Regions from separate parts of the Homo sapiens genome. Here all the other regions are linked to region 1. The links come from fine-mapping of genetic effects on gene expression. A gene starts in region 1. Each other region holds a variant in brackets. All regions are shown on one strand. Distances are from middle to middle.

Evidence for each region. PIP is the estimated chance that this variant, and not a neighbour inherited with it, causes the effect. A credible set is the group of variants that fine-mapping cannot tell apart.
Region 2: its variant is the best candidate, but not a certain one, in a credible set for the expression of FBXL16 in lung (TOPMed, PIP 0.74).
Region 3: its variant is the best candidate, but not a certain one, in a credible set for the expression of FBXL16 in whole blood (TOPMed, PIP 0.65).

What each region holds. Positions count from the first base shown.
Region 1 is chr16:703,545-707,572 of GRCh38, forward strand. FBXL16 (F-box and leucine rich repeat protein 16) reads right to left here and starts at 2,257. Exons shown (of 6, transcript NM_153350.4): 1 at 1,968-2,257. RefSeq lists enhancers at 2,846-3,462, 3,463-4,028 and a silencer at 3,341-3,557.
Region 2 is chr16:758,381-762,408 of GRCh38, forward strand. It overlaps MSLN (mesothelin), which reads left to right and starts at 2,354. Exons shown (of 18, transcript NM_005823.6): 1 at 2,354-2,441; 2 at 2,693-2,794. RefSeq lists promoters at 935-2,784, 2,290-2,770, 2,292-2,310 and enhancers at 1,601-2,126, 2,292-2,310. The variant C/A (reference allele first, on the strand shown) is at 2,213.
Region 3 is chr16:596,162-600,189 of GRCh38, forward strand. The region is part of intron 1 of RAB40C (RAB40C, member RAS oncogene family); the gene reads left to right. Among named protein-coding and RNA genes, the nearest start is that of RAB40C, 8.1 kb to the left of the region's middle. RefSeq lists an enhancer at 3,420-3,921. The variant A/G (reference allele first, on the strand shown) is at 2,241.

The DNA.
Region 1 (4,028 bases):
GGGTGGCTGGGGATTGGGGACAGGGTGCAGACTGACACATTCCGTGGCAGCCCCGTGACGCAGGCACACCCGCGTCCCTGCCACTTGGCACGTGGCACAGCGGCAGAGCTCCTCTCCCGCCCCCAGTTTGAGATGCTTCTGGGGGTGCACCAGGGGCTCTGAGGAGGGGCACCATGGCGCAGCAGGCACGTGGCCTCAAGAGAAACCCGTGTTGCTGCCCCAGCAGACTGAGGGCCCATGGTCAAGCCCAGGGCAGCTCAGCCTTGAAAGCTGGACACCCTGGGGAGTGGGTGCTGGGATCCAGGCCTCATCTCAGCCCCTGCTCGGAAGAGCATGAGCACCCTCAGAGGCGAGGCCTGGGCCCCTAGTGCCTACTGCTCCAGGCAGCTGCCACTAACCATCACCCCTCTTTCCTGCCCAGTGAAGGAATGAGGCCTGAACCCACACATTGCAGCCAGTTTGGCCGTTGACTCCTCCTGCACCACTGGTGGGGAAGGCTCAGTCACCTGCTCACCCACAGAGCTCCCTTCACTGCCAATCCAGTCATGGGAGGCACAGCAGTGGGTGCCCACATGCAAGGAGATGGGGTCTTCGGGTGGCTGAACAGTGCCACCTGGGTGGGAGATCCCTAACTCTCAGCAACACAAGGCTTCCTGGGTCCATGTCCAGCTGGTTCAAGGGCCCCGTGCCTCCCACACAGGAAGCTGTTTGTGTCCTTCTCATCAGTGGGAGGTAGGACTCGTCCAGCCGCCCCGGAAGTGGGTGTGAGCTGGAGGCAGTGAGTCTGTCGATGGAGGGGCTGAACTCAAGGGTCTGGCCCCAGATGAGGGGCAGTTGGGGTGGCAGGGGGCAGGGAGTGGGGCAAGTGAGTCCTAGGGTTCCCCCACACAGCGATGTTTGCAGCTGGGCCTTGAATTTCCCTCCCCTCCAGGCGGCTCCAGGTCCAGCCCTGTGTCCACCTCTGGCCAGACCAGCCAGGTTCCACTAGGCCTCTGCCCTGGTCCGGGAGACAGAAAACCCTTCAGTCTCCTGGCCTGACCCAGGCCTATCTGCTCCAAGGCTGCTGTCCAGCACCCCACAGAGGGGGTGGGCTGGGAGACGGCCCTGTGTCCAGGGAGGCCTGAGCTGCCCCTGGCCATTGGGCCCTCGGATGCACGGGTGTGGGGGAAGGGCCTGAAGGAAGAGGCAGGTGAGGTGGCCTCCGCCATCTGCTCCTCCTGCGGAGGGCAGGCTGCCCGAACAGAGCCTGGAGCCTGGGAAGGGCCTGGAGTGGCCGCTGGGCCGTCAGTTCCTGAAGCTGCCACCGCAGCCCTCTCTCCTGAGGTGATGGGTGGGGAACGCTCTCCACCCACCTAATCCCCAGGAGGACACCGGACCCCTCCCGAGCAGGTCTGAAGGTGCCGTTTCCCTTCTGAGGCCCTCCAACCTTGGCCAAGGCCCGGTCCCGCCTCCAGAACCAGGAAGGTGCCAGCCTCCCCCCACCCTCCTCCTCCCGCGGGCAGTAGCTCAGCGCAGGCCCCGGGTCCAGAAGCCGCCCGCCCGGGGAGGGCCGCCCCTCAGGCCGCACATCCACGCGACCCCCATGCAGTTTAACGGTCTCTGGCCTGTCACTTCGGTCCGGGGGCGCCCTCTGAGCCGACCAGGCGCCCGGGGTGGAGGCCGGGGGCCTACAATTCCTCCTTTCGGCGTCCCAGGAGGCACGGACCCCCAGCCCCGGCCGAGTGGCCAGTGGGGAGCGGCCCTCTTCCGGGCCAGGGGCCGGGGCGCGGGGCTGCGGGAAGGCCAGGCAGGGACCGAGGCCCAGCGGCCGCGGGGGAGGTGGGGAAGGGGCTGCCGTTACGTAAGCCCTTCCCGGGCGGCGGCGGCGCGGCCCCCACCCCCACCCCGCCCCCTCCTCATTGTGGCCGCCGCGGAGGTGCGGCCTGGCCCCCTCCCGGCCCCGCAGCCCGGCCGCACGCGCACCTTACCTCGGCCCGGGCTCCTGGCTCATGCCACGCTGTCCGCCGGGCGACCTCCCGTCATGGGGAGCCCGGCATGGGCGTCGGCGCGCGGGGGCCGCCGGGGTGCTGGACTGGCCGGCAGGGCCCGGCCGCGCCCTGCGCCCCGCGTCCCGTCCTGGCCGGGCCCCCTCGGCAGCGCACGGAAAGGAGCTCCCCGGTGGGAGAGGATCGGCCGCCCCAAGCCTCCCACCGGGGAGGCTGAGGCTGTGCCCAGATAAATAAGGCCGCTTTGCAGGGAACCAGGCGGGCGCCTCCTCCTCCCCTCGCCCTCCCCGCGCTCCTCCGTGGCCGCCGCCGGCGCCGCGCGCGCCCCCCGCCCGGCACCAAACGCCGCGCCCTCGCGCGCTCCCGGCGTGGCGAGCCAATCCGGGTTCGCGAGCCCGGGCGGGGGCGCCGAGAATGCCGAGCCCCGCCCCCGCCCCGCCCCGGCCCCCGCGCGCGGCGCGCTCCCGGCACGGCGTCCACGAGCACGCGCCAGGCCCGGCACGCGCCCCCGCCCCGCTCGCCGCGGGCACCCGCACAATAACAAACCCCGGCGCGCGGCGGGCGGGGAGGGCGCGGGAGGCAGAAGGGAGGGCGAGGGGAGGCGGGAGAGCAGGCGCCGGCGGGTGGCCCAGGGGTCCGGGGTCCTATGGGGACCGGGGCGGCACCGCGCGTCCCGGCCCTTGGCCACCACTTGGGGAGGCGAGGAAGGCGAGACCCGGCCCAGAGGAGACAGGGTGGTCAGACCCCCGTCTCTGGACCCTCCCGCCCAGCCCACGGCAAGGACCCTTCACAGCCCTCACACCCCCCGCGCACCTGCTGCGTGCCCGGCCGGAAGCCCCTCATTGGAGACCCTGGCACACCCGCAGAGCGCGAAAACAAGTGACTGCACGGATCAGTTCAGACAGTGACAGTGAAAGCACCCGAGGGCTTGCGGTGGTGACTTCTGGCGGGGGCTTCCTGAGGGTGCCCCACTGGAGCTGAGACCCCCCCACGGCGCGAGGGAGGGATGGCTCGGGAATGGGGGTGCAAAGATCCGAGGAGCCTGGCAAGTTCCCTCGGGAATAAACTGGAGGCTGGAGGCGGCGGCGGCTGCTGCAGCCCGGGGCAGGGGTGGGGCGTGCTAGGTTAGGTGGAGGACTCGGTGGGGACCGCTGGAGACCCCAGACGCCCCAGCAGGCTCAGGGCAGGAGAATGGAGGCCAATGGCGCCCTATCCTGGGGTCTCCTGGGAGCAGGGCCGGGGGAGGGAGCAGGTGTGGGGAGAGCAGAGGGGTTCTTTGCACCGGGAAAGAGCTACAGGGCTGAATGGGGCTCCTGAGAGTATCTCAATAGGAGTGAAACCAGCTGCTGTTCCCAGCGTCCTGATGGGAAGCCTGGCCGAAGGGGCCGGTGTGAGGCCTGGGGTCAGCGGGAAGGAGGGTCAGACTGACGGCACCCTGGCTGGGTCCCGGGGTGGGGTGGTTCTGTGCTTGCTGTGGGGGCGCCACTGGGTCTACCTGGGGTGAGCGCAGCAGCTCTTCTGCGTAAGTCTTGCCCGGTACCTGGATACTGACCAAAGAAGGTGCCCGGAGTGGGGCAGACAGGACGAGCCCCGTGAAGACAGTTGGGGCAACAGGGGAGCGGCGGTCCAACCTATCTGGGTGTCTCCGGTGCATGGTCTGGCAGGCTGGCCCTCTGGCAGCAGCTTCCACCCCAGGCGTGGACTGCTCCCGGTAGGAGGGTTTCACCTCGTGCCTGGGGCTCTCACCACAGCAGGTGCCAGGGCCTCAGGCAGAGAACAAGCTGTGCTTGTGTTGAGTCCCAGCTGGGGCTGGAGCCGGACACACCCCAAGCGCACAGGGCAGGCTGGACACACCCCAAGTGCATAGGGTGGGCTGGACACACCCCAAGTGCATAGGGTGAGCGTGGGAGTCAGGCATTTGGGTCATGCAACCCTGGCGAGGCCCAAGAAGCTAGCCCTGCCTGTGGGGAATCTGAGCAGGGAAGAGTGTGTGGAAGATCATCACAGAAAGGCCAACCGTGCTCCTCCAAAGCGGTGACCCAC
Region 2 (4,028 bases), 55 kb after region 1:
CCGTCTCAGAAAAAAAAAAAATCACACAGATATTCTTATTTTTCTTCTTTCTTTCTTTCTTTTTTTTTTCAGTAGAGACGGGGTTTCATCATGTTGGCCAGGATGGTCTTGATCTCTTGACCTCATGATCCACCTCGGCCTCCCAAAGTGCTGGGATTACAGGCGTGAGCCACCACGCCTGGGCTTTTTTTTTTTTTTTTTTTTTTTTGAGATGGAGTCTCGCTCTGTTGCCCAGGCTGGAGTGCAGTGGTGCCATCTCGGCTCACTGTAAGCTCTGCCTCCCGGGTTCACGCCATTCTCCTGCCTCAGCCTCCCGAGTAGCTGGGACTACAGGCGCCCGCCACCACGCCCGGCTAATTTTTTGTATTTTTAGTAGAGACGGGGTTTCACCGTGTTAGCCAAGATGGTCTCGATCTCCTGACCTCATGATCTGCCTGCCTCGGCCTCCAAAAGTGCTGGGATTACAGGCGTGAGTCACTGCGCCCGGCATTTTTTTTTTTTTTTTTTTTTTTTTTGAGACAGGGTCTTGCTCTGTTGCCCAGGCTGGAGTGCAGTGGCGTGATCTCGACTCACTGCAACCCCTACCTCCTGGGTTCAAGTGATTCTTCTGCCTCAGCCTCCTGAGTAACTAGGATTACAGGCATGTGCCACCACGCCCAGTTAATTTTCATATTTTTAGTAGAAACGGGGTTCCTCCATGTTGGCCAGGCTGGTCTCGAACTCCTGACCTCAGGTGATCCGCCCACCTCGGCCTACCAAAGTGCTGGGATGACAGGCGTGCGCCACCACACAGGGCCTCATTTAAAGATTCTTTATAGAGATGAGGTGTCACTACGTTGCCCAGGCTGGTCTTGAACTTCTGGCCTCAACGGACCCTCCCGCATCGGCCTCCCACGGTGCTGGCTGAAGGGTGAGCCCAGGCTGGCCACAGCGCGTTTTCATCATTGTCCGCAGCTTGCAGTCGGCTGGTTCAGAGCTTAGCCGGGCACATGGGCCCCTCTGAGGCTCCTGTTCAGGGCTCAGCCGTGTCTACGGGGCCCTCCGAGCTCTTCCTGGACCCTCCTCGGCTCCTTCAGTTCAGGGCTCAGCTGGGCACGTGGGCGCCTCCTTGGCTCCTCCGGCTCAGGCCTCTCCTCGAGCTCTGGGCCCTGAGTATTCTGGGCTCCTTCCTTGGTTTCCTTTGGCCTTTGGCCGGGAAAGTTGTGGGTGTCCGTGGCAGCCTGGGCCACTTCACAGCCCCGCAGCCAACCTGCGGCTCCTTCAGAGCAAAGCTGTGTGGACACAAAGGGAACGCCACTCGGAGCTGGCCTCTCCCTTTACCTGTGAGTTCCCGCCCAAGCCGGCTGCCTTCTGTCCCCTCCCCAGAGCCCTTGGGTAACTGGTTTGCTACAAGAGTGTCTGGAATTTTTCAGTTGTTCTCTGCGGAAGGGAGTTTTTAAAAGGCCCTTAATCCCTTCTTGACATTTGTAAGTTGACGCTTACACCTGGCAGCCTTGCTGAATTCTGTGTGCGTGAAGGTCCGATTCCACCGCGAGTCACGATAGAAAACCCACTCTGTGGAGAGACCAGAGATGACCGCCGCGCACACCTCCGTTCAGCACACAAACCTTTGCAGGTGTTCATAGCGGAGGCAGATTCCGTACTGGGGATAAGAGCTCACGACATGCTGGGAGGGGTTTCAGGGGCAGGGAGGGGGCTTCTGTGGCCCCAGGTCAGGAGGAGCAGCTCTTCCATCAGCAGCAGGCAGCCAGCCCAGATGCGTAGGGAAGACAGCTCCCACTTCGCCAGGCCAGAGAGCGCCCGGGGGCAGCTCTGTTCCAGTCGACCCTGCGAGAAAGGGGTGTGCGTGTGCCTGGAGCTGGGCCCCGTCCTGCCTCCCTGACCTGTGTGCTCCCACAGCCCTGAGACGGACGGCTCACAGCCTTGCGAGGCCCACACTGCACTGGGGGTCAGGCTTGTGCTCCCGGGAGTCCTGTCTGGGCTGCGTGGCCACCATCCAGAGCCTGCTGACCTGCGACTGGGGGGGCCAGTGCTCCCTGGGTTTCAGCACCTGAGAATCAGAGTGGGATCCCGTGAAACCTGGGCCCAGGCTCCCACCCACGCCCCACACCCACCCAGGGAAGCCATGAAACCTGGGCCCGGGCTCCTACACATGCCCCACACCCACCCAGGGCAGCCGTGAAACCTGGGCCCGGGCTCCCACCCTCGCCCA[C/A]CGAGGGCAGCTTTGCCTTCCTGGGCATCCCTCCTCCCCCAGGCCTGGCCCGCTGCCTGTCCAAGGCTCCTGTGCGGGGTCTCCACCCACACATTCCTGGGGCGTGAGGCGCCACCACTCCCTGCTGCCCCGGGCAAAGCCGTCATTTGTTCCCTTTGACGGCCCGGGAGGCTGCCAGGCTCTCCACCCCCACTTCCCAATTGAGGAAACCGAGGCAGAGGAGGCTCAGGTGTGGCCAATCACCCTGCACATCAGAGTTACCCTGGGCAGGGCCCACTGAGACCTGGGAGGGGCCACTCGGGACCTGGAGGGCTGGGGGCTGCCCGGGCGTTAGGGGTAAAGCTCCCTACCCAACTGCGCAGAAGGCCTCAGAGGCCTGGGGGCTGGGCTTCCCCTTTCACATCGCCCTTTAGAGGCCCACGTGTGGGCATTGGCCCGCGATCTGAAAGGGGCTGTCCTGTTCCTCATGGGCGCTGCCAGCGCCACGCACTCCTCTTTCTGCCTGGCCGGCCACTCCCGTCTGCTGTGACGCGCGGACAGAGAGCTACCGGTGGACCCACGGTGCCTCCCTCCCTGGGATCTGTAAGTAACAACCTTTGAGCTCTTCCTGTTGTGGTGTGGATGGAATCTGCACCTTCCATCTGGAGAACTGGGGCCGCCCCAGGCCGGGCTTCCAGCACCAGAGCGATGGTCAGGCTTCAGCTGGACGCAGATTTCACCCCGCAGGGCACACGCAGACCCATTTGTTTGGAAGCGGCAGTCCTAAGGCAGTGCAGGTGCCTCCACGGCCCCAGCCCAGCTCTCCTGCAGGTGTAAAGGATGCAGATTCCAGGGCCCCCCATGGCCTGCAGAGGCCCCTCAGAGCAGGAAGGGCCGGGCTCTCGGGGAGCCCCCATCCCAGGTGCTGAGGTCCTTGGGTCACATGGAGCTGGGGTGGGGAGTGCCCAGGTCCCCTGTGATCCGATGGCCACGTTTCCCTCCTGGCTTCACGCACCCCAAGGGCTGGGGGTCCCACTCACTGCCCATTTTCTGGCTGTGGGGGGGGTCTGTTTTCTTCCACCTTCTCAAGGTGTTCAGAGCCTCAGGGGCCTCCCCACTTCCTCTGGGGCCTGGGGGAGTAGAGTCTGTCACCCGGAGGCTGTGTGCCTCCCCGCGACATTCCCCAGTGGCCGGGCCGACCAGGCAGGCTCTGCCTGTGGATGGGGCTGCTGAGCATGAGCGTGTGACCCCCATTTCTGAGCTGTGGGTGGACCCACCGGGCCTGGGCCAAGGTTTTCAGGAGGCAGCTCTATTCTACTCCGCCATGGTGGCCTCCCTGAAAGGGGTGAGTGTAGAAGCCAGTTCCCTCTTCTGCGAGCCCCACCCCTACCCCAGGAGGACAATTCTTGTTCAGGGAGGGTCTCCCCACCCACTTCCCCACCCCACAGTGGCCCACAGGCCCCACCCTAGAGAGTACAAGGGGCTCCCCAGGCTGCTCACTGGCCCAGCCCCGCCCCACCTGGACTGCACCTGAAAATGGGCTCAGAGAGGCCAAGTGGCCCAAAAAGACGCTGCTGGGTGGGAAGGGGCGGTGGCCTCTGTGCCCGCAGTGCCCCTCCTGCCTCAAGGGTGTTGTCTGCCTGGCAGAGCCTGGGGTGTTCACAAAGCCCAGGCACCTGCAGCTGAGGGCAGGGGAGAGGGAAGGGAGCCACATCCAGGCGACGGGGCTGCTCGTCCTCCTGTGCGAGAGTGGGGAGACTCAGGCCAGCCCAAGTGGGCGGCGGCCCCGGTTGCTTGATCTAAGCTCTGCTCACACTGCCCTGCCCTTCTGGGAGAG
Region 3 (4,028 bases), 110 kb before region 1:
CGTGTCGAGCACACGTGTTGTGGCCTGCACGATGAGCTAAATTGAACAGTGTTTCAGGAAGGAAGCCACATCGGGGAGCTGAGAGGTGGGCGGGAAGGACACAAGGGAGGGATCTGGGTCCTCGCAGGTACTTTTGCCTCTTGTTCTATTTGAAGATTGCAGCTGAGAAGGCGCGAAGCTGCTGGTCCCTGAAAAGCTGCCGCCTACCCTGGTCTGGAGCCCCTGCGAGCTGGCGTAGAGCAGGAAGGGGTTGCATCACAGCTGAGTCCTCCCCTGCGCAGCACATGGTACGATGCCACCCCACCGAGGGCCGTTCTGGGGCCCAGGGGCCACGTCAGCCAGGGTGTCATCCGCCGGGCGTTTGGAGTAAGCAGGGAAAGGTGTCGGCGTCCAGCATCCTGGTGCGGAGAACGCTGCCGAACCACTGTGAGAAGGCGGGGAGACTGCTTGTCAGGCTGAGCTGACTTCCTGGGCGGTCGGGAGAAGGATGTGCAGACTGTGGAACTGGCGGGTGTCAGGGACCAGAAGTTACGAAGGCGGTGGGAAGAGGAGCAGCTGTGGGAAGAAGGACTGGCTGCCAAGACCATGGGCTGTGGGCATCCTCAGGGCAGGAGCTGGGTGGAAGAGGGGCCTCTTCAGTCCTCTTGGCAGTGAAGGTAAACAGATGTCAGCAGGGTGGACTCGCACTTTGAGCCTAAGGTAGCGAGGAGGCTTCTGAGCCGACCTGGGGATGGCGGCGCACTCTGATACAGGCAGTGCGCGGCTGTCTCGTGCTGAGATCAGGATTTTGAGTAAAGCAGAGATTTCTGGACGTTTGTCCTTCAGAAATTAGCGGAGGGACAAGGGCATTGGCGCTGTGGAGAGGTAGGGACCCATGGGTATGGGGCGGAAGACCAGGGCACGACCAGACACCGCCAGGGTGCTGCACATGTAGGTAGCAGGGGGAGGTGGTCCAGGCAAGATGGGATGGGAGGGGCTCAGGAGCAGCCAGGTTCTAGTGCTGGTGATGAGGTGGGTGGTGGCAGGGGCATGTGGAAGGGTCTTCTGACCATGGCTTACAGAGGGCTTGGTGCTGGGGGGCCTGGAGTTGTGGAAAGGGTGAAGGGAAGAGTTGGTCCCATATTCCCAGATGGCAGAGTGGAAACAGAAGCACTCGGCCCCTGAGCAGCCTTCGCCGTCTTTACAGTGAACACAGTCCTCAAACCAAACTGGGAAGGATTCGAATCCTGGATGGGTGATGTGGTCCTGGCTGTGTAAACTGACCCTGATGAAAGACATGCCCATCCTGTGAGAGGGACAGCCATCTAGCATCTTTTTTTTTTTTTTAATTTTTATTTTTTGAGACAGAGTCTTGCTCCGTTACCCAGGGTGTAGTTCGATGGCACTATCTTGGCTCGCTGCAACCTCTTGAGCCTCATGGGTTCAAGCGATTCTCCTGCCTTGGCCTCCTGAGTAGCTGGGATTACAGGCATGCACCACCACACCTGGCTAATTTTTTACATTTTTAGTAGAGACAGAGGTTTTGCTGTGTTGGCCAGGCTGGTCTTGAACTTCTGACTTCAAGCAATCCGCCCGCCTCAGCTTCCCAAAGTTGGTGGAATTACAGGCATGAGCCACTGTGCCCAGCCCAGCTCAGCATCTTTGGAAAAGAGCAGAGGGCTGGGCACGGTGGCTCACACCTGCAATCTCAGCACCTTGGGAGGCCGAGGTAGGCGGAGTGCTGGAGCCCAGGAGTTTGAGGCCAGCCTGGGCAACACAGTGAGACCCCATCTCTACAAAAAAAAAAAAAAAAAAAAAAAAAAAGGCCGGGTGCAGTGGCTCACACCTGTAATTCCAGCACTTTGGGAGGCCAAGGTGGGTGAATCACGAGGTCAAGAGATTGAGACCATCCTGGCCAACATGATGAAACCCCGTCTCTACTAAAAATACAAAAATTGGCCAGGCATGGTGGCTCACGCTTGTAATCCCAGCACTTTGGGAGGCCAAGGCAGGTGGATCACGAGGTCAGGAGATCAAGACCATCCTGGCTAACATGGTGAAACCCTGTCTCTATAAAAATACAAAAAATTAGCTGGGCATGGTGGCGGGCACCTGTAGTCCCAGCTACTTGGGAGGCTGAGGTACGAGAATGGCGTGAATCCAGGAGGCAGAGCTTGCAGTGAGCCGAGATCACGCCACTGACTCCAGCCTGGGTGACAGAGCGAGACTCCACCTCAAAAAAAAAAAAAAATACAAATACA[A/G]ATACAAAAATTAGCCGGGCGTGGTGGCGCATACCTGTAGCCCCAACTACTTGGGAGGCTGAGGCAGGAGAATTGCTTGAACCTGGGTGGCGGAGGTTGCAGAGAGCTGAGATTGTGCCACTGCACTCCAGCTTGGTGACAGAGCGAGACTCTGTCTCACAAAAAAAAAAAAAAAAAAAGAAAAAAGAAAATTAGCTGGGTGTGGTGGTGCACGTCTGTAGTCCCAATTACTTGGGAGGCTGAGGTGGGAAACTCACTGGAGCCTGGGAGGTGGTGGCTGCAGTGAGTCTGACTGTTGCACTACGTTCCAGCCTGGGTGACAGAGTGAGACCCTGTCTCAAAAAATAAAAAATAAAGAAAAGAGGATGGAAGAAGAGAAGAGCTGAGTCCTGGAAATGGGCAGGTACTTTACAGTTTGTACAGCGGCCGGATGTAAGAACCTCATGTCAACCCTGAGTGAAGGTGTAGGCCGGGCGGTCAAGCACAGCACTCTCCAGCAGCTCCAGCAGCGTGGGTAACCCGGTGGGAGCCTGTGTGCTGCTTTCCCTGCCCGGGGCCGGCGGCTGCTGCTGGGCTTTCGCCTGACTTCCTGGTCAGCAACGTTGTCGGCCACCTGGGCACAGCAGGTACAGCCTGTGTGTCAGACCTAGCTGGGAGGGGCGGTAATAGGGTAGATGACATCAGGATTCAGGACTCTGAACACAAACACAGTGACACTGATCAGGGTTGCCGAGGTGCTGTGTTTCGGTCCAGAAAGTCACTGCTGCAGGGGAGGGGAGTATGGTCACAGCCCAGGCCCCGGCCCCGGCCGAAGCTGCCACTGACAGGAGACCCTTCTCTGCCTGTGCCACCAGCTTTGCTCCGAGGGGTGTCTGTGTCCTCAGGCTCTGCCAAGGCAGTGTCAGGCTGATGCCTGCCCGTGTCGGCCGGCCACAGCCCTAGTGGCTGCCCGCAGAGTCTTGCGCCCACCTGATTCCTGCCTGAGAGGAGCCGCCAGGTCAGCTGATGCCAGCAGGACCCACTTCACCAGGTCAGCAAGGAGGAGGCAGCTTCCCTTGGGGCCACGCCGTGCCTCCTCCGTGTGCGCTGCTGCCATGGCTGCTTCTGTCGATAGGCATGTACGTGAAAATGCACACCCGTGGGTGTTCGCTACTGTCAGCGTGGATTCAGCAAGGTTTTGTTCCCTCGTGGCATCAGTCAGCGTGGATTCAGCAAGGTTTTGTTACCTCGTGGCATTAATCAGCGTGGATTCAGCAAGGTTTTGTTCCCTTGTGGCATCAGTCAGCGTGGATTCGCAAGGTTTTGTTCCCTCGTGGCATCAGTCAGCGTGGATTCGCAAGGTTTTGTTCCCTCGTGGCATCAGTCAGCGTGGATTCGCAAGGTTTTGTTCCCTCGTGGCATCAGTCAGCGTGGATTCGCAAGGTTTTGTTCCCTCGTGGCATCAGTCAGCGTGGATTCGCAAGGTTTTGTTCCCTCGTGGCATCAGTCAGCGTGGATTCGCAAGGTTTTGTTCCCTCGTGGCATCAGTCAGCGTGGATTCGCAAGGTTTTGTTCCCTCGTGGCATCAGTCAGCGTGGATTCGCAAGGTTTTGTTCCCTCGTGGCATCAGTCAGCGTGGATTCGCAAGGTTTTGTTCCCTCGTGGCATCAGTCAGCGTGGATTTGCAAAGTTTTGTTCCCTTGTGGCATCATACTCCTTTCCTGTTTGGTTTGGGACTCCCATGGCCCCCTTGATGTTGGAGCCTCTTCAGGTGGCACCTGCGTCCTGGGCTATGCCCTGAGTTCCCGG